Linked DNA regions of Homo sapiens. The protein of the gene in region 1 interacts with the protein of each later gene in a pairwise test. Each region holds a gene or a part of one and is shown in the gene's direction. Other genes may lie near its edges.

Region 1 (5,962 bases):
ATGGAGGCATTGAACATTCATCTTACTGGTTGTCTGACCCTGCACAGTGGGAACTACTGCCTTGGAGCAGAAATCTATAGATGATTTGAGGGAACTAGAAGTGAGAGGTGGACCACATTTAGACCTGCATTTGGGGGTTTACAGGTTCACATATAATCTATGAGAAAAGAACCCAGAGACTATAAAAAGAACATTATATATGAGATTTGAAGGGAATCATGAGTAGCTCTCCGAAAATTTTAAGGTGCCCCAGAAAGCTGGCACCCTATATGGCAATGGGCTTTATTTTTCTGCCACCCCTGTCGTCTAGGGTTCACAGTGCCTCACTGGGCATTTGAGATGTTGCCAAGGCAGTGGAAAATAAAGAGTATTTACTCATCCGTCAATGAAATTGTTAGCATAAGTGAATCACAGTGATGACATAATATGTTCTTTATGTTGAAAATTAACAGGGTAAGGAGGAGTTTGAGAGGCAACAGAAAGAGCTATTGGAAAAAGAGAATATCATGAAACAGAACAAGATGCAGCTGGAACATCATCAGGTAAGTTCAATCAGAGCAAAAACTGCTTGGCATTGGAAAGATTTCCCACCTAGCACTAAGGAAAGGTATCACTTCAAGAGATTATGATTTTGATTCTTCCAGCTCACTGGCAGGAATCAGCTCCAAAGCACGGAATGGGGTTTAAAAGCAAAGAGAAGGTTTATGACCTTGTTAGTTCAACTGGGTGTACCTGGGTTCCATCTAAACGGCAATTTTTTTAAAGGCTAAACCTGCATATCTAACATATGAGGACTATTTGGGTTAAGGCATTTGGTCTCAAGAAACAAGACCCATTCAAGCTAGCCTAAGCAAGCAGGTTTATAGTAAAGCCACAGTAGGGGAATTCAGTAACAGAAAGTGAAGATAGAGCCAGGTCTGGGGAGAACTAGAACTGTAAATTATCTCTCCTTCTTGTAGTTCCTTTGCTTCTTTCTATCAGTCTACTTCACTCTCACCTATTTTCTGGTTTTCTCTAATTATCTACTCATTTGGCTCCCCTGTAACTTTGCAGAACCCATAAATGGCCACTCAGAACTTCTATAGATGGCTTTTCATCTCGGCTTCCTCTTCCGATGGTTAGCTCCCTTCTCTTGTTCATCAGATTCCCAAGAAAGAGTCTGATTGGGCCACGTTGATTGGGCCATTTCTCTTTCTCTCTCTCTCTCTCTCTTTCTGTCTCTACCTCGCTATTTGTCTCTCTTTCGCCAGCAACACAAGCCTATGGTTTGCCTGGCCTTGGTCCAATCTAAAGGTAGGAGAGCAGAATTCAATGTTTTCAACATATATCCAGGCCTATCTACTGAGGACTTTGGGCAGGGCATGTTCATTCAAAAGCTGGGTATGAGTAGGGGAGATAATGACGACTATTGCTAGAACAAGGGCATACAAATAAAGAGAGATGGATTGAGGATTTATTTACAAGCCTTTTAAGATGAAATGAAGTGAAATGGCATGTAATGACATGAAATGGCATGCTATATTTAGGAAATCTGAGTTCTAATCCTTTCTGGCCAACCAACTATGTCAAGTCAGGTAACCTCCCCGAGCTTCAGTTACTTCCCTATAAAATGGGAAAGTACCCCCCCCATCTAATGACATGATATATTGATGAACATATTTGCATAAAGCCTAAGATATATAAAATATAATCCATTATGATTAAATACCTTGGAATATCACCTTGTACCTATTTATGTTTGCCTTGGCATCTGGCAAGGTAAGACTGCAGGGCTTTGGGGAACTTGTAGAAACCATAGCAATCGCTAAGAAGAAAACAGATTCTAGAAAAGTAAAGCTGTTGAAGGCTGGGCACGGTGGCTCACACCTGTAATCCCAGCACTTTGGGAGGCCGAGACGGGCGGATCATGAGGTCAGGAGATCGAGACCATCCTGGCTAACACAATGAAACCCCGTCTCACTAAAAATACAAAAAATTAGCCAGGCATGGTGGCGGGCGCCTGTAGTCCCAGCTACTTGGGAGGCTGAGGCAGGAGAATGGTGTGAACCTGGGAGGCGGAGCTTGCAGTGAGCCAAGATCGTGCCACTGCACTCCAGCCTGGGTGACAGAGCAAGACTCTGTCTCAAAAAAAAAGAAAAGTAAAGTAAAGCTGGCTGTGCATCTCTCAGAGAAGCTGGGGAAGCTGGGTGAGGTGATCACTGCTCCAGCTCATCCCTACGTCCAGGTGGGAGATTAACTGAGTCTGAAGCTCAGGTCACAGATAGTCCTTATCTGCAGAAGAGAGGTCTCTCTTGAGTCTTAGTGGAATCCCTAGAAATTATTATAATTGCAATTTAAATAATACACCATTTGGTAGCAATGAGGAAAGAAGGAAGAAAGCCAGCACCTGATGCATCTGACTCTGGGTAAAACCCCCTTCTTTTAACAGCTCTGGGGGACTAAATATTATGATGCACAATTCCCATTCAGACTGCCTTAGAAACTTTTTTTCCTTAAGTGCTCATATATTTATATGCATTAATCTTCCTGTAGTGCTGGATCATAACATGTCTATCAATCTTGACAGAAAGAGTAGGATAAACAGAAAGGGGTCATGAATGGTCATTTCATCTGAGCATCCTGAGATAGTCGAGGCTTTCTCCGAGAAGGAGCAAACTGTCAGTGACTTACTTGACAAGGAGGTCACTACATTTGGTTTTCCCTTGCCACCCCTCAACATTAATAAACATTTACATAGAGCCTACTACATACCAAACTATTATAAGCATTTTGTAAACGTTAACTCATTTAACCTCCATAAAGGTGTAGGTAACAGGGCTGCGGTTTAAACACTATGCTACCTTCTAGCCAGAGGGTACAAGAGACCAGTAGTCCAATCATAGAAGGTCTGAGCTTGAGGATCATCTTTCCCAACGTCTACATTTTACAATTTAGGAAAGCAAGGCAGCTTGACCCAGGCTTTACAGCTCACATGCATCTGACAGTTACTAGCGACTAAAATCCCTGTCTTTTAACTCCAAGGCCTAGTGAATTTCCATTGCAACACACTCCCTTGCTCTAATGAGATCTGCTTTCGTCTTCCTTGCAGCTGAGCCAGTTCCAGCTGTTGGAACAAGAGATTACAAAGCCCGTGGAGAATGACATCTCGAAGTGGAAGCCCTCTCAGAGCCTACCCACCACAAACAGTGGCGTGAGTGCTCAGGATCGGCAGTTGCTGTGCTTCTACTATGACCAATGTGAGACCCATTTCATTTCCCTTCTCAACGCCATTGACGCACTCTTCAGTTGTGTCAGCTCAGCCCAGCCCCCGCGAATCTTCGTGGCACACAGCAAGTTTGTCATCCTCAGTGCACACAAACTGGTGTTCATTGGAGACACGCTGACACGGCAGGTGACTGCCCAGGACATTCGCAACAAAGTCATGAACTCCAGCAACCAGCTCTGCGAGCAGCTCAAGACCATAGTCATGGCAACCAAGATGGCCGCCCTCCATTACCCCAGCACCACGGCCCTGCAGGAAATGGTGCACCAAGTGACAGACCTTTCTAGAAATGCCCAGCTGTTCAAGCGCTCTTTGCTGGAGATGGCAACGTTCTGAGAAGAAAAAAAAGAGGAAGGGGACTGCGTTAACGGTTACTAAGGAAAACTGGAAATACTGTCTGGTTTTTGTAAATGTTATCTATTTTTGTAGATATTTTATATAAAAATGAAATATTTTAACATTTTATGGGTCAGTCAACTTTCAGAAATTCAGGGAGCTGGAGAGGGAAATCTTTTTTTTTCCCCCTGAGTGGTTCTTATGTATACATAGAAGTATCTGAGACATAAACTGTACAGAAAACTTGTCCACGTGCTTTTGTATGCCCATGTATTCATGTTTGTTTGTAGATGTTTGTCTGATGCATTTCATTAAAAAAAAAACCATGAATTACGAAGCACCTTAGTAAGCACCTTCTAATGCTGCATTTTTTTTGTTGTTGTTAAAAACATACCAGCTGGTTATAATATTGTTCTCCACGTCCTTGTGATGATTCTGAGCCTGGCACTCCCAAATCTGGGAAGCATAGTTTATTTGCAAGTGTTCACCTTCCAAATCATGAGGCATAGCATGACTTATTCTTGTTTGGAAAACTCTTTTCAAAACTGACCATCTTAAACACATGATGGCCAAGTGCCCAAAAGCCCTCTTGCGGAGCAAATTTCAGAATATATATGTGGATCCAAGCTCTGATAGTTCAGGTGCTGGAGGGAAGAGAGACCTGTGTGTTTAGAGGCCAGGACCACAGTTAGGATTGGGTTGTTTCAATACTGAGAGACAGCTACAATAAAAGGAGAGCAATTGCCTCCCTGGGGCTGTTCAATCTTCTGCATTTGTGAGTGGTTCAGTCATGAGGTTTTCCAAAAGATGTTTTTAGAGTTGTAAAAACCATATTTGCAGCAAAGATTTACAAAGGCGTATCAGACTATGATTGTTCACCAAAATAGGGGAATGGTTTGATCCGCCAGTTGCAAGTAGAGGCCTTTCTGACTCTTAATATTCACTTTGGTGCTACTACCCCCATTACCTGAGGGAAACTGGCCAGGTCCTTGATCATGGAACTATAGAGCTACCAGGACATATCCTGCTCTCTAAGGGAATTTATTGCTATCTTGCACCTTCTTTAAAACTCACATATGCAGACCTGACACTCAAGAGTGGCTAGCTACACAGAGTCCATCTAATTTTTGCAACTTCCTGTGGCCAGTGTGTATAACCCCTTCCACTATCTCACAGATAGTCACAGCGTCCATTCCATAGTCTGTCTCCTCACATCTGTTAGTATTGACACAGCACAGACACCACAAGCCATCAGGTTCTTCATGGGGCAGGTGAAATACTTCTACCCCATGGGTAAATGTATTCACATATTACCAAGAGAAGAAGCACATTATCTATGATCTTTTGGCCCAGTTCTTATTTAGCATTTTTATTCCAGCCTACTTGGAAACATGTTTTTATTTGCAATATATGCCTGACTGAATTAAGCTTGCTTGTTTTAAACAACCAAATCATTGGAACAGAAAAGGATTTAAAAAACAAGAATGCATGATCTCAGAGTGATTAAAAAAAAATCAGTGGAAATAAATGATCATAGAAGGTGCTTTTCAAAACAACTGCTATTATAATTCTCAAAGTCCTACTCTGCCAAAAGAAGATTAAAAGTCATACATTACATTACAAGGAAATGTTCATGTGGGAAGAGGGTTGCTGAAAATCAACAACGCTTGAAGTTAAAAAGTGTGTCTTTGTAGATTTCATTGTATAATGTGTATTTCTTAGGAGATGGCTGACTTGATTGATCTACGCTAAGTGGAGACATTTCACATTTTTAAAACCAAATGTTCAATCTGTATTACTCTTTGCCGTCTTGTATGTAGAGGCTATTTTTAAATCATTAAATTTTTAGATCTCTGTTTTCATAGCCACTGGGTTTTCTTTTTCATACTCCTCTGTCACAGAATTAAATATTGGCTTACTTTGGTACTCCTAATATAAAAAGTTAAATTATGATTATTTTAGCAATGCTATAGGTCTGGATTTTTTTAGGAAAATTGAGGGTTTGGTTTTCTCTGTATATGTGTCACTTCCAAGTGTATTTGCATTCAAAGAAAATTCTAGAATCTGTGAACATTATCAAATTCAAATATCTGGAACAAGACTTGTGTTCACCAAAAAACCCATACACTCAGTAACATATAGGATGATTTGTTTTCATAATATGGATGTTACCAGTCATGTGGTTTTTAGAATCAAAGAAAATTTTTCTATTTGTTTTGGAATAGTCATAAAGAAATAATTTAAAGCAAACTATATTTAATGAAAATAAGAGATTTGTAATCATGTAATTATCATTTTTAATGGTTGGCCCACTCTTTTATTCAGGTATCCCACTGAGATTTACAGACAAATTATTTAAATGTA
Region 2 (8,091 bases), about 110 Mb from region 1:
CACAAATATGTATTTATTACATTTATATAAGTTATGCTTAGTTACAAATTAAATGGAATTACTTCAAATTTTCAAAGGTTATATAGTTATTTTTATAATATAAAGTTGAAGGTATATATGTTATGTTTGGAGATATCTATAGAGAATTACATTATCTTTTAAGTGTATAGGATGTTTTAGATAATTATAGTACTGATGACAGTAGTAAAAAGTATAGGAATAGAAATATATCAGTGTCATTTCAGACTTAAGTAAAATGAGTTTATCCTCATGTGTTTTGCAAATAAATGCATCATTGTCCTTCCCTAATTATTCAGGGCTGAGAAATAGGTTTTGAATGAAAGTGAGAGAATGTAAGCATTTGCCAACCTGAAGCTTGACAGCCCTTTAGTACTAAGAATGTTTTAAAAAATACCCATCATCTTCAATTTCACCATTCATATTTATATGTCACAGAGCAAATCATGATGAACCATGAGGTTTATATAGAAGACCTAATATTTGTGATGTGGACCAGGCATGGTTTTATGTTAGCCATGATATTTTAACTGTACTAGCAGATTTTTCACTGGGGTTTTGTACTTTTAACATTAATCCTTATAATTTGATTTTTAAAAAATATCCAGAATAAACGAAGTCTACTTATGTCTACTCATTACCTCATTTATAGAGTCCATATTCAAAATGGGTAATAAGTCAATGAGAAAGTTGAAGGAAAAGGAAATAAAATATTTGACCTAATTTTTGTTCCTTTTTCTTAGGCTTGAAGAGAATTACATTGTATGTGAAGGAGTTTGCTTACCACGGTGCATTCTTTATGCACACTACTTAGATTTCTGTAGGAAAGAGAAATTAGAGCCAGCCTGTGCGGCCACCTTTGGAAAGGTAAATGACACGTATTGGCTATAGTGACTTATAACTAAAGTCATGTCAGGCAGATAGCATGAAAATGAATTCATCTGTGCAAGTTCTCTTAGAGAATATTGAGACATTTGTTTTGCAGGCATAAATTGTCTTAAGGACTCTGTTTGGAATTGCTATATGTTTATAACTTGATTTTGAATATTAGAACCCTAACTATTAGAAGATCTAATGTGAATTTAAAGCAAGCTTTGTTTAAGCAGTAGCATTTGCCTTCAAAGAGGGATGCATTAAAGTGTATAGTATGGCCTGTGGTAAGAAGCAAAATTAAGTGGAGGTGACAAGTCTCTTGCTAATGCAATTAGTGGTTAGTGGTTATCCATACTATTTACCTAGTCCAAATATATGAGTTTTTAATAGGTTTTAAAATGTATTAAAATTTCTCCTAATTCTCCATTTCACTCTATGTTTACATTCCAAATCCCAAGATTTTATGATGGGATGGGTTAGAATTCTCTCATTTAAAAATATTTCTTTCTACCCAACCTGTGTGGTTAGGATGGGAATCTATATAACTGACATTATTATGCTTATATATAGAGAGAGAGACATCACTTTGAGAATCAATATGAATGTCTTAAGAAAGCCTTGTTCTTTAAGATTCATGTCATGCTGTGTTTGAGAACCTAGGATATCCCAGAAAAACTTTAGGAAGCTTGGGTCTCAAATATTGTATCTTACACAAATTGAAATCCAGATTCTAACCTGTAGAGGGACTCATTGTCCAGAAAATAATGAATACTACAGTCCAGCTTCTCATTTAAAAAATAATGTTATTTATTTCAAAAACCTATCTATTTACAGAGAGAGTGTGATATTATACATTGTAATCAGGTAACCTGGGTTCTAGCCTAGACTGGACTAATTTATTGTGAGACCTTCTGAAAAGCACTTAATCTCTTTAAAAATCTGTTTACTCATTCTATTAAATGAGGAGTTTGGATAAGACAACTTCTAATATCCATATTAACATTACCATTTTGTGAGTCTACCTTATGGGAATAATTCTTAACTGTTTGGCAGTCATGAAGCACCTTGAAAACCTGGTAAAACTGTAGAGCCAGCCTCCAAGAAATTAATACATACATAGTTTGCCATGGAGCTCTTTAAAGTTCATGTATGGATCTTCAAAGATTGAGGTTAAAATTGTTTTATGTAGAAGACTTTTTAAAAAATGTTTAATCAGATCCTAATTTTAGCAACTTTAGAGAAAGGAACATACAAAACAAAAAATTTATAACATTATAATGGAGATACAGTAAGGCAGAGAAAGTTTTATATGTCCTTTGGGGTTGGGAATAGATTTTTAATTGTGGGTAAATCTCTGTATGGAATTATATGAAGAGACCCAAATCTTCTCACTCCATACATAAATAAAGTAATAATTGCTTTGGTAGTACCATCAAGCAAAAGCAGATATTGGTATGATCTGCCTTAGAAATCAAGACAAGGTCAGTAGAGCACTTCAATCAAAAAAGTACCTCCCTGCCTCTGCTGATGTATTGCTTATCAATATGTGTAAGTTATTACTTTTTCCAGACTAAGTATTCACTCACAGTTCATTCAGAGTTCAACATTTACTTTCCCCAAGTAATTGGCTATGAGTGGCTTGCATTAGGACCATATACTTTCTAACGCCTAAAGTAATCATCTTTCTTTTTAGACAATTCGCCAGAAGTTTCCCCTCCTAACAACAAGGCGGCTTGGAACAAGAGGCCATTCAAAGTAAGATACCAGTGAACATATTCAGGTTCTGCTCTTGTGCATGAAGATTGACACAGATGTAAAATAAGTATTGTCTTTGTCAGTACAAAGAGAACCAGGTATTCTCTTGATGAAGCAGACTTTTATCAACTGTGAGAACTGAAAAAAAAAAAAAGATTTTAGAATAATGTTTAAAAAGCAAATTTTACATTTGAAAATAATAATGTATTATTATTTCTGCTGAAATAATTTAAATGAGTCATTTTCATAATCTTAAAGCTGTTACTGAAGGCACCAGTGTTATGAGGAGGAATGCAACGCTCCCAAAGAGCAAGGCCCAAACCAGGGGGTAAAGAGCTTTGAGTAGGAAGGAAGTGCCTTAGCATGCTTCAGGTTCTTCCTCTAGTTTTCTTTCTGAGACAATAATTTCTTGATATCTCCTTCTCTTCTCTTTAAGACAAATGACATGCACAGATGACCTGTTTGGTCATCTCTTAAGGTAAATATAAACATAAACTAAGCTGTCACACATTCCCCCTCTTTATGTCTTTAAATTTTCCTCTCTGTTGTGGCAGTCTCTGGAGAACTCCCAGGTACAGTTTCTCATTCAACAGCTATTTTCTATGCGTACTGTGTTTTCAGTTTCTCCTTTCCTTCTGCCTATGAGCATGTCCAGATCTCCTTTATGCTGAGAAAGAAAAAAGTTCCAACCTTCATGATTGCTCTAGTATTTCCCCCTTTGAGCTGTTGCTTCCCTTACCACTGATCACATCCCTCTGACCTAGTCCATTTCCTACCTGGGCAAAAATCCAATGGCTGGTTTTTACTGTTACTCATCTTCCTTGGCTCCTGCTTAGCATTTGAACCAACTGATAATGCCCTCTTAAAATAAATACAGAAAACTACCTCTATAGCTTCTCTGTCATAGTACTATCTAGGCCCTCTTCCCTCTTCTACCACTCCTTTTCTGGCTTGTCCACTGCCTCCTTCTGCCCTGACATCACATCCAGCACTGATCAATGAAAGTATAATGTGGCCACATATTTAATTCAAAAATTTCTGGAAGCCACGTTTAAAAAGTAAAAAGGAACAAGCGAAATTAATTTTAATGTTTTATGTAATCCAATTTATCCAAAACATTATTATCTCACTATGGAATCAATATAAAAATTATTAATCGGATATTTTACATTCTTCTTTTCATACTACGTTTTTGAAATCTAGTGTGTATTTTACACTTACATCACATCTCAGTTTAGACTAGCCACATTTCCTGTGCTTACCCCCACATATGGCCAGTGGCTTTATTGCTTTATTGGATAGCTCAGCTTTAGACACTTGCAAAAACATAGGTCCTACTTTTTGAATTCTTTTGAATATGACTCTCCTCATTGCTACTTTCATAGCCTGGCCTTGACTCTGTCTTTCTTGTCCATTCATGCAATTTTTCCAAACTGACCTTTTAAAGTTGAGATTCAATCATATCTCTTCCATGTTCAAAACCTCCACTGGCTCATAATTTCTACTATTAACAACAAACTTTCCTCAACTTGACATTCAAGGTCCATCATGATTTAGTCCAAGTTCATTTTACTATGTCACCTATTTCTTACTTTCTAGCATGTAGTCTATGTGCTCACCAAATAATTATCCCAGTAACCTTTGATTCACTCCAACTGCCAGTCTTCTGTTTAAGTTTATGCTGTCTTCCCCTGGAGAATGCCTTTTCCCATATATGTATGTTGAAATTTTACCCATTTGAAAGAATGTCTCTTGAACTTCTTCCTTTAGATCTTTTTTTAGTCCATTGATTTATTGTAGGTCCCTTCTCTGCACCCTGTGGCAGTTTGCTGGTACCTATCTTAATGTGAAATTAACTTATCTCCTCCTCTAAACAGATAATACATATTTTGAGGACAGAAACTTTGTCTCATTCACTTTTATATTCTTTCTGTTGGTCGATATATAATAGATTATCAATTAATACTTATTTAATTGATTGCAATTAATGTTAACATTATTGTGGCCTGGAAAGAATAAATAAAGTGCCAGATTCAAAAAGGCAAAATGGGTCCCTTCCTTCTAACCAAGTCAACTTTATTTCAAAGTTTGATCAGTTTAACTGACTGATTTCTACTGAATTTGATTCCTACTGAATTGTATTGGTTGAGGAAAGATCAGATAGTGTTTAAAGTAAATAGATAGGGGGAAAAGAGGCCGAGCAATGAAGAGAAACCCTCTTGACAGGATCTATAAGAGGGTGGGCTGGCAGGCTGCAGGGAAAGTCAATTAATCTTTGAAGGAGCCTTTAGGATTAGGGATGAATCATTAACCCTGTCCATTGTGTCACAGTGGGGCTCTAGTACTTAGGTTGATGTAACAACATGGGGTGACTTCGGGCAATTTATTTGAATCCAAGAGCCATAGATGTGCCCAACAGCAAGGCATTAACAATTTGAATTTTTTTCTGCTGTGCTGATATGCCATTTGATATTTGTGACGTGACTTTTTTGATATGTTTATATCATAGAGAAAAATTAATTTTCCATATTTAAACTACATATGGTAAAAATATAGCAAAATGTAGTTTGTATATCTTGTAAATAGTAATTTTTTTGACATAATTATTCTTAGCTAGGTATGTTTCTGCCTTTATTTCCAAGAAATATCCTTAGCTTTTATCTTGGAAGATAGAATATCAAAAGGCAGTATAGCCTAATGGTTAGGGACATAGGCTTTAAAGTTGGACAACTTTAAACATGAATCTGATGTTTCCATGTATAGCTGTGTGACACCAGCTTTCCAGCTAGTGATTTATTGTAAGGTTATTCAGCTTTTCACCAGTAAAGTGGGTATACAATATCTTATAGGATTGTTGTGAGAGTTAAATGAGATAAAGTATAGGAATGAATATAGTAGTGAATATGCTTTCAACCGCACTATCCTTAATAATAAAAAATTAATGACTCAATATAAAATATCTGCACTACAATTAGAAGTTATTTACTGAGTATTACACACACACACAGATGCATGCACTCATCTCTAATCCTTGCAATAATGATAGAAGATAGGAATTACTGTATTACAAATGAGGAAATTGCATTTCAAAGGTTATTGGCTTGCCCAAGGCCACATAGATAATACATAATAACAATGCTGGCATTTGAATCAAAGTATATCTGACTCTAAAGTTTATGTTTTATCTGCTAGTAAAAGTAGGGAAGCCTACTACTTTTTTTCCAATATCAATCGTATCAACAAATAATTATTCAATTGAATGTTTGATTTTTGACATATAAGTTTTATTAAGTTTTTTTTTAACAGATCTAACAGTTCTTAAACTTTATTAACATATTAGATTCTTCTTCAGAGAACAAACAACACTTTACCATGCCACAATTGTAAGGCATTTAATTTAGAGGTATTTGTGTTTTATATTAACAGCAAATTTGTAGCACAATTTTATTTTCTGCCTTTTAATTTTAGTCCTAAACATGTCTCTGTTATATATTATCTTTGCAAACATTTCTAATGGCTATTATTTCATAAACTTACATTTTATAAAAATATTTTTATGTTTCTATGGAAATATGAACAACTGAATGAAAGACAGAAATATAAAGTAAGTATACCTTAGAAAATCAGGGAATCATAATTTCTCCCAATTTTACTAGTAATTTTGCAAAACATTTTATTGTTATTGTAGTGTTTAATACAGTACTTTTAGCATAGTATTACTAAATATTTGTTGAATTATTTAAAAAATATAAATAAATGTGATATTTATTTTAACTTCCTTGGATTGCATACTAATACATACAAACATTGTGAAACTGTTCTGATGATGATTACTTAAAAAATGAGTTCTCAGTTTGGCCAAATTATTATAGGATAGCTAGAGTATGTCCAGTCATCTCACTGGGGACTATCAGAATTTATTTTAGATTATGATTGACTCAAAAGGTTCTCCTGTACTCTGGGCATGAGATAGCACCCTCTTTTTAAAAATTGTTCTTAGATGTCTTTGAGGTTCATGAAGCAATGTCACTCTCTAAATTTTACTGGTCCCTATATAAAACCCAAAGTTTGGAAAACACTAATCTATGTGACAAAGAGATGATTAGTAGGGCCTAAAAATCATGAATGAATGTGGTGTCTATTTTCAAGTTCTATTTTCCTAAGTTTTGAAATAACTGGCTGTTAATTACAGTAATGTCTTCACAGCTCTCACATTTGTGCATGTGCTACTTCTTTCCCTCACTGAAAAGTGAAAGATGAAAAAGTTTGACTGTATAAAATGAGCCCAAAATTTATTCAATTAAATGGAAGAGATAAAATATTTAAAACAGATATATTAAAACAAAAAAAAATAGGCTGGATGTGGTGGCTCACACCTGTAATCCCAGCACTTTGGGAGGCTGAGACAGGAGGATCAGGAGGTCAAGAGATTGAGACCATCCTGGCTAACATGGTGAAACCCTGTCTTTACTAAAAATACAAAAATTAGCTGGGCGTGGTGGTGCGCACCTGTAGTCCCAGCTACTCAGGAAGCTGAGGCAGGAGAATCACTTGAACCTGAGAGGCGGAGGTTGCAGTGAGCTGAGATCGCACCACTGCACTCCAGCCTGGCGACCGAGCGAGACTCCATCTCAAAACATAACAAAACAAAACAAAAATAAAAAAATAATAAAACAAAAAAATCTAAACAGACAGGATCACTGTGTAGGGCCAGATATCATCCACTGTCAAAATTAGGAACAATTAAAAATGGAGTAATTTGTTTTCAGTGGCAAGTTCAACATTCCACATCAAAGGCCACTGCTGCTGATGGTTATGGAAAAAAAAAATCTCTAAAGATGAACATGAGGGGTCAGGAAGCGTCACTCTAGGGCACCTAACAAGTGTGCTTTGGGGACAAAGCCAGTCAATTTGCAGGTCCATTAGCAGCTCAGCTCTCTATCCAGTTCCTTCACGCTTACCATCCCCTGCCAGCCAAGAAAACCAGCAACCCCAGCGGCAGACACTGTACATTCCCAATACCAAGATAAAAATTGACTTTACTTTCATGTTTCTTCTTTTCTTCCCTTTAGTTTTACTACCAATTCCAAAAGTATACACCTGGTTTTATTATCTGTGATATTTTTTAATTGAGGTTTTGAATAAATAAAAAATGAAACAAAGTTCTATAAGGATAATAATGAAGAATCATTCTTGCATATTTTATGGTTATGAATACATTGAGAATAATCAGTCCATTCCTACTGACATGGATGTACAAAGCGTGATGCTAAAGAGTTTTTGAGATGCAAAGAATTGTAAAACAGGGTACCTGCTGGCAAAGAACTTTCGCTACTCATCTTAATTATTTAATAAGCATTTTACTGAGGGTCCCGTTGCTAACTAGGCCCTCGGGTACAATGATAAGCAAAAACCTTGTATCCCACCCTTGCTCAGAATGGCTTG
Region 3 (8,768 bases), on another chromosome or scaffold:
GAGTTGAATTTTATATTTGGTGATAAATAGTGGTCCAGTTTCAATCTTCTGCATATTGAGAAGATTGAGATAACTAGCCAATTATCTCAGTACCATTTATTGAAGAGGGAGTCCTTTCTTCATTGCTTGCTATTGTCAGCTTTGTTGAAGATCAGATGGTTGTAGGCGTATGGTTTCTTTTTTTGGGTTCTCTAACCTGTACCAGTGATCTCTGTGTCGACTTTTGTACCAATACCATGCTATTGTAATTACTGTTGTAGCCTTGTAGTACAGTTTGAAGTTGAGTGGTGTGATGCCTCAAGCTTAGTTCTTTTTGCTTAGAATTGCTTTGGCTATTTGGGCTCCTTTTTGGTCCCAATGAATTTTAAAATGATATTTTCAAAATCTGTGAAAAATGTTGGTAGTTTTACAGGAATAGCATTGAATCTGTAAATTGCTTTGGACAGTATGGCCATTTTAAAATATTGATTCTTCTTATTCATGAGTATAGACTGTTTTTCCATTTGTTTGGGTCATCTTTGATTTTTTTTTTTAAGCAGTGTTTTGTAATTCTTGTTGTGATCATTCACATCCCTGGTTAGCCATATTCCTAGGTGTTTTAGTTTTTGTTTTTTGTGGCTATTGTGAATGGTATTGCATTCATTATTTAGCTCTCAACTTGGACATTGTTGGTGTATAGCAATGCTAGTGACTTTTGTACACCGATTTTGTGTCCTGAAACTTTGCTGAATTTGTTTATCATATCTAGGAGCCTTTGGGCAGAGACTGTAGGGTTTTCTAGGTATAGAATCATATCGTCTGCAAAGAAGGATAGTTTGACTTCCTGTCTTCCTATTTGGATACCTTTTATTTTTCTTTTGCCTGATTGCCCCAGCTAGAACTTCCAGTACTGTGTTGAATAGGAGTGGTGAGAGTGGGCATCTTTGTCTTGTTCTGTTCTCAAGGGAAATGCTTTCAGCTTTTGCCTCTTCAGTATGATGTTGGCTGTGGGTTTGTCATAGATGGCTATTATTTTGAGATGTGTTCCTTTTTGATGCCTAGTTTGTTGAGGATTTTTAACATGAAGCAAGGTCGAATTTAATCAAGAGCCTTTTCTGCATCTATTGAGATGATCATGCAGATTTTGTTTTTAGTTCTATTTATTTGATGAATCACATTTATTGATTTATGTATGTTGAACCAACCTTGCATCCCAGGAATAAAGCTTTCTTGATTGTGGTGAATTGGATTTGGTTTGCTAGTATTTTGTTAAGGATTTTTGCATGTATGTTCATCAGGGATATTGGCCTGAAGATTTTTTTTTCTGCCAAGTTTTGGTATCAGAATGATGCTGGCCTCATAGAATGAGTTAGGGAGAGTTCCTCCTCCTCTATTTTTTGAAATAGTTTCAGTAGGATTGGTACCAGCTCTTTATATGTCTGGTAGAAATCAACTGTAAATCCATCTGGCCCAGGGCTTTTTCTGGTTGGTAATTTTTTTATTACTAATTCAATTTTGAAACTTGTTATTGATCTGTTCAGGCTTTCAATTTCTTCCTGGTTCAGTCTTGGGAGGTTGTATGTTTTCAGGAATTTGGTCATTTCTTTTAGGTTTACCAGTTCGTGTCAGCACCATCTATTGAAGAGACTGTCCTTTCTCCAATGTATGTTCTTGGCACCTCTGTCGGAAATGAATTCACTGTAGGATTTATTTCTGGGTTCTCTATTCTGTTCCATTGGTCTATGTGTCTGTTTTTATGCCAGTACCATGCTGTTTTGGTTACTATATCTCTTTAGTATAATTTGAAGTCAGGTAATATGATTCCTTCAGTTTTTTTTCTTCTTGCTCAGGATGGCTTTGGCTATTCTGCATCTTTTATGGTTCCATATGAATTTTTAGGATTTTTTTTTCTATTTCTGTGAAGAATGTCATTGATATTTTGATTGGGCTTGCATTGAATCTGTAGAGTGCTTTGTGTAGTATGGACATTTTAACAATATTGATTCTTCCAGTCCATGAACATGGTTTATCTCCCCACTTTTTAATGTACTCTTCTATTTCTTACATCAATGTTTTATAGTTTTCATTGTAGAGATCTTTCACTTCTTTGGTTAAGATTATTCCTAGATATTTTATTTTATTTGTAGCTGTTGTAAATGGGATTACTTTTTTGATATCTTTTTCAGATTGTTCACTGTTGGCCTATAGAAGTGCTATATTGATTTTTGTATGTTGATTTTGTATCCTGCAACTTTATTGAATTTGTTTATATATTCTAATAGTTTTTTGGCAGAGTCTTTAGTTTTTTCCAAATATAAGATCATATCATCTGCAAACAAGGATAATTTGACCTCCTGCTTTCCAGTTTGGATGTCTTTTACTTCTTTCTCTTGTCTGATTGCTGTAGCTAGAACTTCTAGTATTATGTTGAATAACAGTAGTGTAAGTGGTCATCCTTGTCATATTCCAGTCTTAGTTCTGTTTTTTCTTCATTTCTCCCTTACTGGTGCTTCAGAACACTTCACATTTCTGTATTGGAATTCCACAAGCGTGTCTTTCTGTCCCTTCTAGATTGTAAAACTATTTGAAGGAAAGATTTTTATCTTACTGGTAGACTGTTTGGGGAGACATTGTTCACTGTATCTCACAGCGTTTTCCTCATAAAGATTTATGGGGGAAATTTCTCACAGGTCAAGGCTTGCTTTTATTTTAGGGACACAGTTTAATGTATGCCAGATTATATTCCCCCACTTTGCATTGGCTGCTTGGAAGCTCAGAGCCACAATTGTGTCACAGTTCTAAGCAGCGCCTTCTCAAAATCTCCACTTATATACCTAATAGTCTTTGCATTAGTCTCCTATTGCTGCTGTACCAAATTACCACAAACTTAGTGGTTTAAAACAACATAAACCTATTATCTTACAGTTTGGGGAATCAGAAGCCCAAAATTAGTTTCACTGGACTAAAGCCAAGGTGTCAGCAGGACTATGTTCCTTCTGGAGGCTTTAGAGGATAATCTATTTCCTTATCTTTCCCAGCTTCTAGAGACTTCTTACATTCCGTGTCTTCTGGCCCCTTTTTCCATCTTCAAAGCCAGGAGTGTAGCATCTTCTCTCCCCTCTGACTTCTGCATCTGTCCTTACATCTTCTTCCTCTGACTTTGATCCTCCTGCCTCCCTCTTATTTTTGCGATTGCACTGGGCTCACCAGATAACCCAGGTTAATCTCCCCATCTCAAGACCCTTAACTGAATCACATTTGAAAAGTCCCTTTTTCCCATGTGAGGTAATACACTCACAGGTTCTGGGGATTCGGAAATGGGTCTCTTTTGCAGGGGGTCCTTATTCAGCCTGCCACATTCTTTTCAGTGTTAGCTGTATGAAACTGAAATGTTTGAGTCTCCTAACCAAACTGTACCTCTGCCTACCCTTCCACCTCCCTCACCTTCCATATCTCAGTAAATGGCCCTGCCATCTAATAATTGTTCTGATCAGGCACATGGTTCTCTGCTCTCCCTCACCCCCATATCCAGTCTCTCATGTTGTTCTGTCATATAGACTTCTAAAGTGTATCTAGAACCTGTACACTTCATTTTTTGGCCACTGCCACTACCCTAGGCTAAGCCATCACCAGCTCTTGCCTGAATTGCTGTCATAGCCTCTAATTTGTTCTTTACTTCAGCTCTTGCCCTTTCCTAGTCTATTCTTCACAAATCGATTAGATTTTTTGCAAACACAAAGCCAATCATGCTGTTTTCCTACTTAATACTCTCCAATTGTTTCCTATCTCATGCTGAAGAACATTCAAATTCTTCATCATGACTTCTAAGGCCTCATGGTCTGGCCTGGCCCTCTCTCAAAGAACATCTCATTCTGCTCTCTTTACCACCACATTCTGGTCACACTGGCCTCCCTGGAGATTTCTACCTGGCTCAAGCCATGCTTCTCACATGTAATTCTTCTGCTTGGCACTCTGCCAACTCTTCCCCGACTACATCTTTGCTGAGCTTTTGGTCTCATCTGAAATGTCTCCTCCTCAAAGAAGCTGTTCTATACAACTCCATCTAACTGGAGTTCCCTACCCTGCTGTGCACAAATTTTTCTTGATCACTTCACCCTTTTAAGTAGCCTTCATAGACTTATCACTATTGATAATTACTTAGTTGTTGTTTACTTTATATCATTTATTTTCTCCATCATATTGTTAATTCTGTAAAGGCGCAGGCCATTTCTGTTTGTTCCTTGCTGTATGTGATGCTTCATAGGTATGTAGCATAGGAGATCCTGAATACATTTTCTGTCATCCTTACCCTGACTTTATCTTACCTTTTTGGGTTTGTTTTCCTTATGTTCTTGTTTTCTTACTTTGTATTGAAATGAGAGAAAAACTCACAACCCCCAGGCTCTACTCAAGGTTGGGGGCCAGAGGAGGTAGAGCTTCCTCTGCTCCTGTCTCTTCCACCCGCCATCCACTCACTCGCCATTAGTACTGTGTGTTGTGGGCAAAAGAAAAGCTTTCTACTAGTGTTTCTTCCCAGGGAATGTGGGATTCATCCTGGAATGCCAAAATAAGGATGAATTGTCTAAAGAGAAAACCAGAATGCCTTTCTGGACCAAAGATTGAAATTGCTCTGCCTAATAATGTAAACAGTTTATTTTCACTGACTGGGGGCAGAGTGTTCCTTAGCGAGATTAATATGATACTAGCTGCTTTTTTGTCTTCCTCTGGCAAAGGCTAGAGATAACAAAAATTGGGGTTCTAGACTCTAGGGAGGAAGGACAACATTCACAGCTCCATTTGTAGGAGGTGAGGAGGGCCCTTGAGAAAAGTGGGGTGTGAGCGAGTATAGGACATTCAGGAGAGAGATGATCAGTAGGGGACACCCTGGGAGAAAGAGATTCTGAGCTCTTTTCTTTTCTCCGGAGCCCTGACCCTTGAGCAGTGGCACACAGAGTGTCTTCCTTTATTCTCTGGTACAGTAGTCATGTTTCTTGGCACAGTGCCTTGGACCTTCCATACATGCTTTCTTCCCTCCAGAGCCTTCGTCTAAGATGCTGGAGAGTAGCTTATAGCCTGGGCATCAAGTTTGTCGATTCTCCCCAGGACCCTTTTCTTTATAGGTGCCACATGTCATGATTTATGCACAAACATGATTTGCCTGACAGTGCAGTCTGGGCCTGGAATAATTTTAATTAATGGGAAAATGGTCCTCAATACACCGATTAGACCTCTTCAGGTACAACAAGATAAAAGCCTGATAATTTGGATGGAGTACTCTTCTTAAATATCTACTCTGTGCACGGCAGCCAATGGGAAAGCCAGGCTCTCTCCCACCTGATCCAATGAGTAATTAAGAGAGGGCTTTTTCTTCCCTACCTCTCCCCTGCCTCCACCCCGCTCCCCAACTAAAGCTTAACAGGTTGGTGGCATAATGTGGAGACTTTTAAGGGGTGTCATCCTAGGAGCTTAGGCAAGAGCCAGGGTATCTTCTCTCCGCTCCCCAAGCACTGTTCAAGTGGGTTTGAAAAGCAGGCAAGTGAGGGAAGGAAGAAGCTAGAAGCAGGCAAGTTGGGTAACGGCTCTCGGCAAAGTTCGAGAAGTGCCTATGGCCATGAGTGAGCTGGGCACTCGGAAGCCCAGCGATGGCACTGTTTCTCATCTGCTCAATGTGGTGGAGAGTGAGCTTCAGGCAGGGAGGGAAAAAGGCGACCCTACGGAGAAGCAACTTCAGATCATCCTGGAGGATGCACCTCTCTGGCAGAGATTCAAGGAAGTCACTAATGAGATGATTGTGACCAAGAATGGCAGGTGAGTTTATCTGCCGCCCCGCGTGGGCTGGCAGGGCTTGGCAGGAGAGATGAGACCCCTTGAATATTGAAGAGGCTGCCGCTCTTCACTCAGAGGCGGCGGGATCTGATTAAACATGCTTACAGGAACGACTGTCTCCAATGGCTTTCCTCCAGCCAACTTAATTAATTTATCTGAGATCATCAGAGGATGAAGCCACCTGTCTTATGTGCATTTTAAATGGAGAAATTCTGGGGAAATTACCATAAAGTGGGGGGCATGCCCCATTGGGATGGGAAAATGGACTTAAATGTCAGAAAATAATATTAATTTGTGACTAGCTGCATACCCTATCGCAGACCTGAGCCCCAACTCCGTCCAGATAAGGTGAAAGACAACTTTATTTGGAAGCTGGATGATCTCCTCCTAAGTATAGCAAACTTGCCAGAAATGTTTGGCTAGTTGAAGATTGGAAGCAAAAGGGCAAATGTAAACTCATTGCCTATCACTTCATCTGCTTCCCCGTGTGTGTTTGTGGTGAGTGTTCATTTGAGATTGTGTGTGTTTGTGATGATATGAAAGCTGTTGCAGTAATAGTGGATGAAAACATATTATTCTGCTTTAGAGAAAAGAAGATGCCTTCTTTCTTATCAGTGCAACAAATTTAGGGATTAACTGAAACTGATCTCTGGTGGCATTTCTCAGATTCTATTAAACCTAGTCTGCTAAGGGGCTGTCCAGGTAATATTAGAAGATTTCACTTCGTAGAGGAGACGCAAATATTTTGAAACAAAATCTCACCGCTCGCAGCTTGGCCAAACTGGCTCCAACATTCAGCTGGTGTTCACATAGCTTTTCATACACATGGTCACAAAAGTACAAAATGCTGAAAGGCATTTTCAGTAGGCTTAGTTTTGGCTGAACTCTAATTATGACACCCTCGAGAGAATTCTGATAAAAGAGAAGAGCCGAGGCCATCTGAACTTCTTTCTGTCAGGCTTTTGTCCTTGTGCAAAGTGCTTCCGTTCCTGATGTCTCGGTTTTCTATATTTTAATAAAGCACAGTATAGAAAATGAACTATTTCTTGTCAATCTTGAAGAGTTATGAACTCGAGAGCTGTTACATGGCATTAAAATGCTTTCTAAAATGAAAGCCATACCTGAATTAGGGCATTTCAAGAAATTGCGATTATACCAGTAGCAGGAATATCAACCTTGCTTGATTTTTATATTTTCTTTCTCAAAATGGGTTCCACACTTATTTCATATAGATTTATTGCTTTTAATATTGTTACTGTAATTATAGTTCCTTCTCTTGACCTGTATTTACACATTATTTTTAGCTTCTTTCATAGAAGAAAACATAAAACATAGTTTTAATTTCACAGAATTACACCAAATTCTTAATTGGATTTAGTCTCTGACCCTTTAAAAATGGGCAAAGATGCAACTGTAAAAATTTTATTATATCTGATTATAGGTAGAACATTCTGCTTATTTTTCTTTGTATTATTGGATACTAATTACAGTAATACCTAGCCTTATGCTATTGATTGGGCTGTCAAATTGGCCATTTATTAAAGTAAAAATAAGTACAATTACCAAGTCAATATATGGTTCATCTATTTCAATAAGGAATAAATAATAAAAGTTTCTGAAACCATGATAAATTCCAATTTAATAATATGTTACATTGGAATGTACTTTTACCATTTAAGAAAAGTTTTATCTTGCCTTTTTATTGCCTATGTAATTTTCCCCTATATTTAAAATGTAATATTCTTCACATCAGCCCAGTGTGGTGGTGTGCTCCTGTTGTCCCAGCTACGCAGGAGGCTGAGGCAAGGGGTCCTTGAGCCCGGGATCAGTCTGGGCAACACGGTGAGACCCTGTCTTTAAAAAGCAAAATGAAATCCTTCATCTTTAACGTCATTTAATATTAGCTACATGAACAATATTCTTTGTAGAAAAAGTCTGATTGCGGTGAACTTGGCTGTTCTTATCTATGGATGTCCTGCTGTGTTTGCCGTCTTCCTATAGATGAAATCTTTTTCTTAAATTCTCCTAAGCTCTCGGAGCCCTTTAGGGTCAAGATTTTGCCAGGAGATAGAAAGTTTCCTTTATACTTTGATTAAAGAAGGGAAGACAAGTCCATAAGAAATTGATGTACTTAATAATGAATGAACTTGGTCTGAAATTACCCCCAACCTCTTAGTTTCTCAGATTAAACCATTAGTCACACTTTACCTTTGTTAATATAGACATCTTTCTTGCTTCATCTTCTTTACTCCCTTCTTCCTTCTCTCTTTTCTCCCTAACTATTTATTCCTCTATGCCTCCTTTCTACCCATTCTCCTATGTCTATAGACTCTTTGTGTCTCCTTCAAATCCTTGCCCTCCACATCAACTCCCGCACCTGGTGCAGGTAGATTTGTGGCCCTTCCCTGTGGAGAAGAATGTTCCTGGTATGATTACCCAGTCCTAGCCTTTTTCATTCATAATGTCACCTGGGCCCTTTTTCATTGACATTGTCACCTTGACTTTTTAAAAAAGCATCATTTGGGGTGGTAACTCCTATACACTTGAGGTCTCATTGTTCTGCACTAAAATAGCAAATCTTGAAATAGCGTAAGATGGGCCGATGAAAGAGTGAAAAGACTCATTGTCAAGTGGAGATCTACTTTCACATATATAAATAGGAAGCTTGCCTCTGACATTGATCAGAAGCTGTAAAGAGAAAGGCTTTTCTCTGAAAAACACGGAATTATCTCCAGAAACTGGGATCCTGATGTTGGCCTCTCTTCTTTCGTTCCTTCCTTTCTCTCTCTCTCTTCCTCCTTTTCTTTCTTTCTCTCCCCTCCCCCATTCTACTACTTCATTTCCCTTTCAGCCTTTTCTTCCTCCCTCTCTTTTTAAAATTGAAAACTTTCAGTTATTCATAGTTAATAGTCCTTTAGATATAACAGTAATAAGTATAATACCTCCTTAGAGCTCATTTGAGT
Region 4 (8,849 bases), on another chromosome or scaffold:
AGTAGCTGGGACTACAGGCACCCGCCACCATGCCAGGCTAATTTTTTGTATTTTTAGTAGAGACGGGGTTTCACCGTGTTAGCCAGGATGATCTCAATCTCCTCACCTCGTGATCGGCCTGCCTCAGCCTCCCAAGGTGCTGGGATTATAGGCGTGAGCCACCGCGCCCGGCCTTTTTTTTTTTTTTTTGAGATGGAGTCTTGCTGTGTCACCCAGGCTAGAGTGCAGTGGTACAGTCTTGGTCACTGCAACCCCTGCCTCCCAGGCTCAAGCAATTCTTCTGCCTCAGTCTCCCAAGTAGCTGGGACTACAGGCGTGTGCCACCACGCCTGGCTAATTTTTGTATTTTTAGTAGAGACGGGGTTTCACCATGTTGACCAGGCTGGTCTCGAACTCCTGACCTCAGTTGATCCGCCCACCTCAGCCTCCCAAAGTGCTGGGATGACAGGTGTGAGCCACCACATCCAGCCCCAGATGCCCTTTTGGATCCTGCCCCTGAGGTAGCAGGGTGTCCAGGAGCCCTTCTGTCCAGGACAGTCCAGGCCCTGGCTGAGGCATCAGACCCTAGGGTCCAGGCTGGGGGATGCAGCGCTTGGCCTGAGTGTCTTGGGTCAAAATGCAGGCCACGCTTCCCCGTGGCTCAGGCTATTCCAGCCTCCCTACCCACACCCCAGGCCCCTACATATAGCCTGAGAACTTGCACAAAAAAGCCAAGTTTAGTAAATGAAATCCTGTTTTATACATGGCCTTATGAATGGCAGGGCTCCCATGGCGATGCTGGGTGTGCACACAAAGATCCTGTCCATTCAGCAGAACCTCCTCAGGGATCCCCTGGGCCCCAGCCAAGTGACAACCACATCTGTGAATGGGGAGAAGGAAGCGCCCTCCCTGCATGCTTGCACAGCGCAGAACCCAGGGCCAGGCGCCGATCACTCCTGCGATGTGGACTTGGTCGGGCCCCCTGCTCTGAATGACAGCAGGAGTGGATTGAGCGGCAAGGGGACTGGCACTGGGCGGAACACGTCACATCCAGGTGGGTTGAAAACAGTCCCCAGAGTGCAGATAGCATTTCTAGTCCTGGTTGGAAGGCTCAGGGAGGAAAGCAGGAGCTTGGACCAGGTTTGCGGGCTCTGCTGCTCTCTATCCCTACCCGAGGGACCCCTAATCACCCACCCCCCACAGAACTTCTTCAAAGAGCTCCGGGGTTGGTCCCCAGCTGTGTGTGGCCTTGGGTGAGAGGCTTTGTTTCTCCATCTTCCATCCCTGTAACTCTGTTTTGTCCCCAGCTCTGAATGGAGTGCCTGACCCTTCCCTGACCGCTACCCCCCAATGGAGGACTCTCAGCAGATGGGCAGGGGATGAGGGCTTGGCCTGAGCCTCATTCCCGCAGGCTTAGGTGGCTTCATCATTACAGCCATTCCGATCAAGCAGCACAGCCAGCTGGCCAGGCCCCAAAGCTCTTGTCTAATGTGTCCGTGAAACAATGCCACCTGAGGGGCTGCGTATTCCCATGAACAAAATACATGCATGTCCATCCCTTATCTGGTTTGGGACTTGCCTGACCTGATGCTACTACCCCATATTATAGGCAAGGAGACTCTGGAAGGGAAGGTCCTTTGCCTGTGGCCACAGAGCAAAGCAGCAGCAGAGACAGCTCAGAATCTGACTGATGGCTCAGAGGCCGGGGCTCAAGGCACTCAGCTGCCCCTCCTCTCTGAGAGCTGTGTCCTGGGGATGGGCAGGAATGATGCCTGTGGGGTTAGAAGCCTGAGAGAAGGAGGGGCCAGAGCCCACATGCCTTGCCACTTCTAGGCTCAGCAAATCACTGTCGGTGCCCTGAGCTTTAGTTCCCATCTGTAAAATGGGGATCGTGATTCAGGCTCTGGCCACGTCACTAGGCACCCCCAGGAGGATGTAAAGAATTCAGGAACATGAAGCAATGGGTAAAGGGCACAGGGCGGCCTGGCAAAGTCCCATGGCAAGAATGGGGAGAGGCACACCCTTTACTCACCCCTACCACAGCTTGGCCCAGGGCCATCATTGCCACTTACTCAATGGTCCAGGCCTGTTTTCCTCCAAGCTGCCAGGCCATTCCTGGCAGAATCCACCTGACCAATACTCCCTGCAGAGTTGAGGGCACACTCAAGATTAAAACCTGAACCTCCTTGGATTCGTTTTCTATCACTGCTACAACAAATTATCATGGAATAGGTGGCTTAAAACAACAGAAATTCGTGATCTTACAGTTCTATAGGTTAGAAGGTCAACATGGGGCTGAGCGAGGTGGCTCATGCCTATAATCCCAGCACTTTGGGAGGCCAAGGTGGGTGGATCACTTGAGGTCAGGAGTTTGAGAGCAGCCTGGCCAACATGGTGAAACCCTATCTATACTAAAAATACAAAAATTAGCCAGGCATGGTGGCGGGCGTCTGTAACCCCAGCTACTCGGGAGGCTGAGGCAGGAGAATCGCTTGAACCTAGGAGATGGAGGTTGCAGTGAGCCGAGGTTGCACCACTGCACTCCAGCCTGGGCAATAGAGCAAGACTCTATCTCAAAAAAAAAAAAAAAAAAAGGCCAATGTGTGAGTCTCACTGAGCTAAGATCAAGGTGAGGAGGTGAGGGCAGGGCTGTGTTCCTTCTGGAGCCTCTAGGGTAGATAGGGTAGAACCTGTTTCCTTGTATTTTCCAGCTTCTGAAGCAGTTCCTTGGTTTGGGGCCTCTGCCTCCATCTTCAAAGGCAGCAACACATCATTTCTCTGGCCCTTCAGTCATCACATCTCTCTCTTTTTTTTTTGAGACGGAGTCTCGCTGTGTCACTCCAGCTAGAGTGCAATGGCACAATCTCGACTCACTGCAACCTCTGTCTCCCAGGTTCAAGCGATTTTCCTGCCTCAGCCCCCCAAGTAGCTGGGACTACAGGCACGTGTCACCACACCCAGCTAATTTTTTGTATTTTTAGTAGAGACGGGGTTTCACCGTGTTAGCCAGGATGGTCTTGAACTCCTGACCTTGTGATCCACCCGTCTCAGCCTCCCAAAGTGCTGGGATTACAGGCGTGAGTCGTGAGCCACCACGCCCGGCCTATCACATCTCTTTCTCTGTCTCCTGCTTCTACTTTTAAAAACCCTTGTTATTACACTGGCCCACCCAGATACTTCAGCATAAGCTATTTTAAAGTCAGCTGATTTGCAACCATAATTTCATTGGCAATTTTCTTTTTTTTCTTTTTTTTTTTTTTGAGACGGAGTCTCGCTCTGTCGCCCAGGCTGGAGTGCAGTGGTGCGATCTCGGCTCACTACAAGCTCCGCCTCCCAGGTTCATGCCATTCTCCTGCCTCAGCCTCCTGAGTAGCTGGGACTACAGGCGCCCGAGTAGCTGGGACTGCAGGTGCCTGCCACCATGCTCGGCTAATTTTTTTTTTTTTTTGTATTTTTAGTAGAGACGGGATTTCACCATATTAGCCAGGATGGTCTCGATCTCCTGACCTCGTGATCCACCTGCCTTGACCTCCCAAAGTGCTGGGATTACAGGCATGAGCCACGGCGCCCAGCCCTCATTGGCAATTTTCATTTCCATTTCTCATGTAACAAAACATATTCATAGATTACACAGGTTCGGATGTGGGCTTTTTTTCTTTTCTTTTTTTTTTTTTACATGGGTTTTTGCTCTATTGCCCAGGCTGGAGTGCAGTGGCGTGATCACAGCTCACTGCAGCCTTAACCTCCCAGGTTCAAGCAATTCTCCTACCTAAGCCTCCAGAGTACCTGGGACTACAGGCTTGAGCCACCATGTCCGGCTAATTTATTTGTTGTAGAAACAGGGTCTCACTATGTTGCTCAGGCTGGTGTCAGTGTCAAACTCCTGGACCCAAGCAATCCTCCCACCTTGGCCTCCCAAAGTGCTGGGATTATAGGCATGAGCCACAGCACCTGGCTAGATGTGAACATATTTAGGGGGGCTGTTATTTTACCTACCATGATCCCCTTCTTCCCATCCGGACCTCCCAGCTTGTCTGGCATCTTCCCCCACCCCCAGCATCCTGCCTCCCCCACTGAGGTCTTCCCGGCTCTGCCTCCCTAAAAGCCCTTCCCACACTGACAGCATTGAAGCCAACCATCCTGGTCACACTGAGCTGGCATAGCTGTCATCCTCTAGAAAGTGAGGTCTGTCCACCCCGTCACTACCCACCACTTCCTCTGCCCCACTCTTCTTAGCACTTACCCACCTGGAAGGGTATCATGATGTACCTGGGAACTTGGATTTCCCCCATTTCCCTTCTCTGGGCTGCAGGTCCCAATCCAGAGGCTGAATCCCCAGGGACAAGAACAGCGCTAGGCACTTGGTAGATACTCAACAAATCTCTCTTGAGTCACTGAGAGGTGCAGTTTCCTTCAGTCTGTCTCCAGCACCCTGTGCGGTGCCTGCCCTTCAAAACATGTTTCTGGGCCGGGCGCGGTGGCTCACGCCTGTAATTGCAGCACTTCGGGAGGCCGAGGCGGGCAGATCACTTGAGGTCGGGAATTCGAGACCAGCCTGGCCAACATGGAGAAACTCCGTCTCTACTAAGAATACAAAAATTAGCCAGGTGTGCTGGCACATGCCTGTAATCCCAGCTACTCGGGAGGCTGAGGCAGGAGAATCTCTTGAACCCAGGAGACGGAGGTTGCGGTGAGCAGTCTGGGCAACAAGAGCGAAACTCTGTCTCAAAAAAAAAAAAAGTTTCTGGCCCTGTAGGAATGACTGACTGACTGACTGAAAGAATGAATGGACCAGGAACTAGTCTGAATATGAGCCCCACCTTCACTCTGGAAGCCTGACAGCAAAGACGGGGGTCCAGGCCACGCGGCCTCTGCCTTCCCATACTGTCTTTTCTAGTGGGAGGTAAACTGATCAACTAGCTTGTAAGTTTGTAGTATTCTAACGTAGGCGCTTCCAAGGAAGTCGCTGAATATACTTGTGCCGGCGCTTCCCCGACGCAGCCCTGCAGGGAAGGATCCGGTCCAAGGTCTCTCTGCGATTTCTGAAGAATTCGGTCTTCCCGGAGCCTCTCCCCCGGCTCTTCTAGAACCGAAGGTTTTAGTTCCCATGGGCACAGCCGGAGGCCGCCTGCGCCACCCGGCCCTCAGCCGCCAGAACCAGGACAGGACTCCAGGGCGCGCGCGACCGCTGGACCCGGGAGCGGCACCTCCCACGCCGGGAGCCCCGGGCGGTGCCCGGAGTGGGGCGGGGCCTGGGCGGGGATGGGGAGGGGCTTGGCTGGCGCGGCCCCGGCATTGGCTCCGCGGGCCGGGGCGGGGCTGCGGGGTCCGCGGTGCACTCTGTAAGTTCACCGCCGGTCGGGTCCGGCCGCCGCGCTGTCCAGCTCCTGAGACCTTGCTGTCCGCCGGTCTGCCGTCTGCGCGCCTCACGGTGAGTTCGGGCTGGGATTTTCGCAGCTTCGCGGGGGTCCCCCGAGAGGCCCATCTCTGTGGCGCCCCGCCCCAGCTCGCGCCCTGGCTCTGCCTCTCACCTCACTCAGTTCCTTTCGAGGGCTCCTAGGGCTCCATGGGGCTTCCCACCCGCATCTGGGTTCCCGCAGCCTCGCCCGTGCCCGCCACGGTCCGTGGGGGCGCAACGCATCCCGACCCCGAATTCCCCGTTCTGCCCTCCATTTTGTGTCCGGGCCCCCGCCCCCCTCCCGAGACCCAGGGGTGCCCCGCCGCCCAGCATCCCCACCGGGGCTGGGGGCCGTATTTTTAGCCGATAGTGAGTTGTTCTCCTATCTTTAGCTGCGGCCGCGAATGTCCTGAAACGGATCCGGGCTGGGCTGGGCTCCGCCCGGGTAGGAGTGGGGAGGGGTCGGCGCAGGAACCCGAGCCGGAGCTAAGGAGCCGGACCCGTGGGAGGGGCGGGGGCCCGCACGCCCGAGCTCTGGCCCTGTGCCGAGCGGACACTAGGACATCGCCCAGGCCGGAAAGCACAGGGGGGAGGCTCCTCCCAGAGCTTGGAGACTAGGGCAGGGTCCCCAATCGCCCCCTTTTTCCCCGATTGTGGGACCAGAAACCCCGAAGCAAAAAGATCTCGCAGGTAATCCCCATCTGGTACTTGAACGCGCAGCTCCTTGGGGACCGCCTGCCTGGAGCCCGGGGGAGGGGCGCTGGAGACCCCGGTGCGCTCTCGGAGTCCTCCGGGACACGAGGCGATCAAGGGAGCACGCGCGCCACCTGGCGGCCGCGGAGCCGGGCACCTCTCCGGAGGCACCGGGACCCCGGGAGACCCAGCGGCCGCTAGAGGGTCTCTGCATCCTCGAGGTCTAGGAGGGCGGGAGGAGGTGGACGCCTGGGGTCAGGAGCCCTTCGTTTTTGCTATTGTTCAAAGCACTGGCCCCGGAGAATCGAAGTGCTTGAGGAAGGAAGGCCTTGTAGATATTTGCTGAATGAATGATAAAACCTACAGTGACCCGCTGAACCCCGCTATTGTACATTGGCGCTCTCACCTGCAATATTGCAGTGGGATCTCCAGTGGCCCTTTAGTGGTGGCTTCGTTGTCAGCCCATTTTATAGATGGGAAAGGTGAGACCCAGAGAGGAGAGGCGTCTTGCTGAAGGTTACTGAGGAAGTCCCAGGTGGAGCTGGATTTAAGGACAGTCTCCTGATTTAGGAGAAGAGGGGGTGTGAGGTGGCCTAATATTCTTCATGATAGGAGGATCCCTGCCTGCCGGAAGTCATTTTCTCATTGGGAGGTCCAGGGCTCCTGTCCAGGGCAATCACAGAGAGCTAGGATGCTCCTATCTGCTCCCCGACTGCTGCAGGGAGCTCCCCTCCCAGCTCCCCACAGCCCTGTCCTGATGGAGACCTCATTCTCATATCTCTGGACACATGAAAGTTGGGCAGACGGGGGCAGCCAAAGGTCAGGATGTAGATGGAGGAGATCTGGGGACCCACTGTTCCCAGCCTAGCTGTGAGCCCCTTTCTCTCCCGCTCCCCAAACATATTATGGAAGTAGGCGTGGCCCACTGCATGGGAACCACGTGGACCAGGCTGGGTACCCACTCTTCCACTTCCTAACTGGATGACGTCGCCAATGTTACTTAACATCTCTGAGGTTCAGCTTCGACTTCTGTAAAGGGCCGTAATGACCCCACCATGCCGTGACTGGGAGCTTTAAGATGAGAAACTGTGCGTGGCAAGCTGGATCCTAGGGTCTTGCAGTTGCCAAATCTAAATTCCTGGGGCGTGAGGGTTGTAATTCCCAGCTCTCCCCTGGGCCGCTGATGCTGGCCTCACCCTCGATTCTCCCCACATCTGGAATTGGGTGTGTACATCTGGCTGTGAGTGAGACAGCTGTCAGGGACGCCCAATTTGTTGTGGAAACACTCAGGCTGTCTTGGCGCTGCCGTGTGATGGGGTTGGGGGTGCGGGGAGGACCTGGCCCAGGCTCTGGGTACATCCCACCAGTCAGCCCCACGCTCCATGAGTGAAAAGGAAGACAAGCCCCCCCCAGGACTTCTCTCCTGACGAGCGACAAATTGCATGTTTGTCAGCATGGCCCCCAGGCCTGGCATGGTTGACACAGGATGAATGCGTGACGGGATTCCAAGACCTCAGGGTGCCCATGCGTCCCCACCCTTCCCCCAGCTCCTTGCAAGCTGAGCTGGATTTCCGCCACGGGAGAGTCATTCCTTTGTTTCCTGTTAAGCTCCAGGTGCTCTGGGAGGGGTAAGATGTCCGGCCTCTGTGGCTCAGTACGACTGACCCGGGTGTCCGGTCCTGGGGTGGGGTTTCCTGAGCAAGGGCCTCAGCTGGTGGGGGGAGGGGGGCAGTTGGACTCTGCTTCTCCTGCATCCTCCTTCCTCCTTCCTGCTCCCGCCTCCCAACCCCCTCACCCCCACCCTCACCCTGCCCAGAATGAAAACTGAGGCAAAGAACTGGCAAGAGCCACCTTTGGTGAGCCCCTGGCTGGGCCTGGGGAGGGAGTGGTACAGGAGGGTGGGCTCATCTGGCTTGAATTCCCATGCTGCCCTTACTCACTGGGTGACCTTGGACAAGTTTCTCTCTTTGCCTTTTATGCTGAGTCTACATCTGGGCTCATGTGTACTGGACCAATCAGGTCCCATGTGCGTCCCCCACCCTCAAGCAGAGGGAGTGCTTGCTTCATTTCTTTTTTCTGTTAAATCAGTATGACACCCCTTCATAGCTATTTATTTTTACACATTAAAAATAGCTTAATTTTTTTCTGACTACATAAATATGTGCATATAAATAATACATTGCTTATTAGTAAGAATTTGAATTCATAGAGGTCTGAACAAGAAAGGAAACATCAACCTGAAATTCTACCACTTTGAGAAAACCACTGTTCCATCTTTTCATATTTATATATATTACACACATTTATCATGTCATAGTCATGGGACCAAAATATTATAGGTTATTTTTATTGATGACTCCTTTCCTCCCATATCAGTGACCCCACCCCCCATCCCTGCTGTGTACCCTAGTCAAGGTAGCCCATATGACAACCTAGGGCTGGCCTTCTAGATTTTTCTCTGTGTTTTAAATTTTTTTTTTAATTTTTTTTATTTTTTTTGAGGCGGAGTCTCACTCTGTCACCCAGGCTGGAGTGCAGTGGCACGATCTAGGCCCACTGCAACCTCTGCCTCCTGGGTTCAAGCAATTCTTCTGCCTCAGCCTCCTGAGTAGTTGGTATTACAGACTTGTGCCACCACACCTGGCAAATTTTTTTTTTGAGACGGAGACTCTCTCTGTTGCCCAGGCTGGAGTGCAGTGGCGCGATCTAGGCCCACTGCAGCCTCTGCCTCCCGGGTTTAAGTAATTCTTCTGCCTCAGCCTCCCGAGTAGCTGGTATT

The links.
Region 2: the proteins of NEDD9 (region 1) and RFX6 interact in binary tests that used the Homo sapiens proteins (3 or more experiments, as listed by UniProt).
Region 3: the proteins of NEDD9 (region 1) and TBX19 interact in binary tests that used the Homo sapiens proteins (3 or more experiments, as listed by UniProt).
Region 4: the proteins of NEDD9 (region 1) and CDC42EP2 interact in binary tests that used the Homo sapiens proteins (3 or more experiments, as listed by UniProt).

What each region holds. Positions count from the first base shown.
Region 1 is NC_000006.12:11,182,798-11,188,759, reverse strand, and holds the end of NEDD9 (enhancer of filamentation 1), read left to right. Parts: intron 1-452; coding exon 453-542; intron 543-3,088; coding exon 3,089-3,598; 3' UTR 3,599-5,462; downstream 5,463-5,962. UniProt on the Homo sapiens protein: Scaffolding protein which plays a central coordinating role for tyrosine-kinase-based signaling related to cell adhesion. As a focal adhesion protein, plays a role in embryonic fibroblast migration.
Region 2 is NC_000006.12:116,879,783-116,887,873, forward strand, and holds part of RFX6 (DNA-binding protein RFX6), read left to right. Parts: intron 1-761; coding exon 762-885; intron 886-2,584; coding exon 2,585-2,646; intron 2,647-8,091. UniProt on the Homo sapiens protein: Transcription factor required to direct islet cell differentiation during endocrine pancreas development. Specifically required for the differentiation of 4 of the 5 islet cell types and for the production of insulin.
Region 3 is NC_000001.11:168,275,507-168,284,274, forward strand, and holds the start of TBX19 (T-box transcription factor TBX19), read left to right. Parts: upstream 1-5,370; 5' UTR 5,371-5,584; coding exon 5,585-5,787; intron 5,788-8,768. UniProt on the Homo sapiens protein: Transcriptional regulator involved in developmental processes. Can activate POMC gene expression and repress the alpha glycoprotein subunit and thyroid-stimulating hormone beta promoters.
Region 4 is NC_000011.10:65,309,545-65,318,393, forward strand, and holds the start of CDC42EP2 (cdc42 effector protein 2), read left to right. Parts: upstream 1-5,321; 5' UTR 5,322-5,410; intron 5,411-8,849. UniProt on the Homo sapiens protein: Probably involved in the organization of the actin cytoskeleton. May act downstream of CDC42 to induce actin filament assembly leading to cell shape changes. Induces pseudopodia formation in fibroblasts in a CDC42-dependent manner.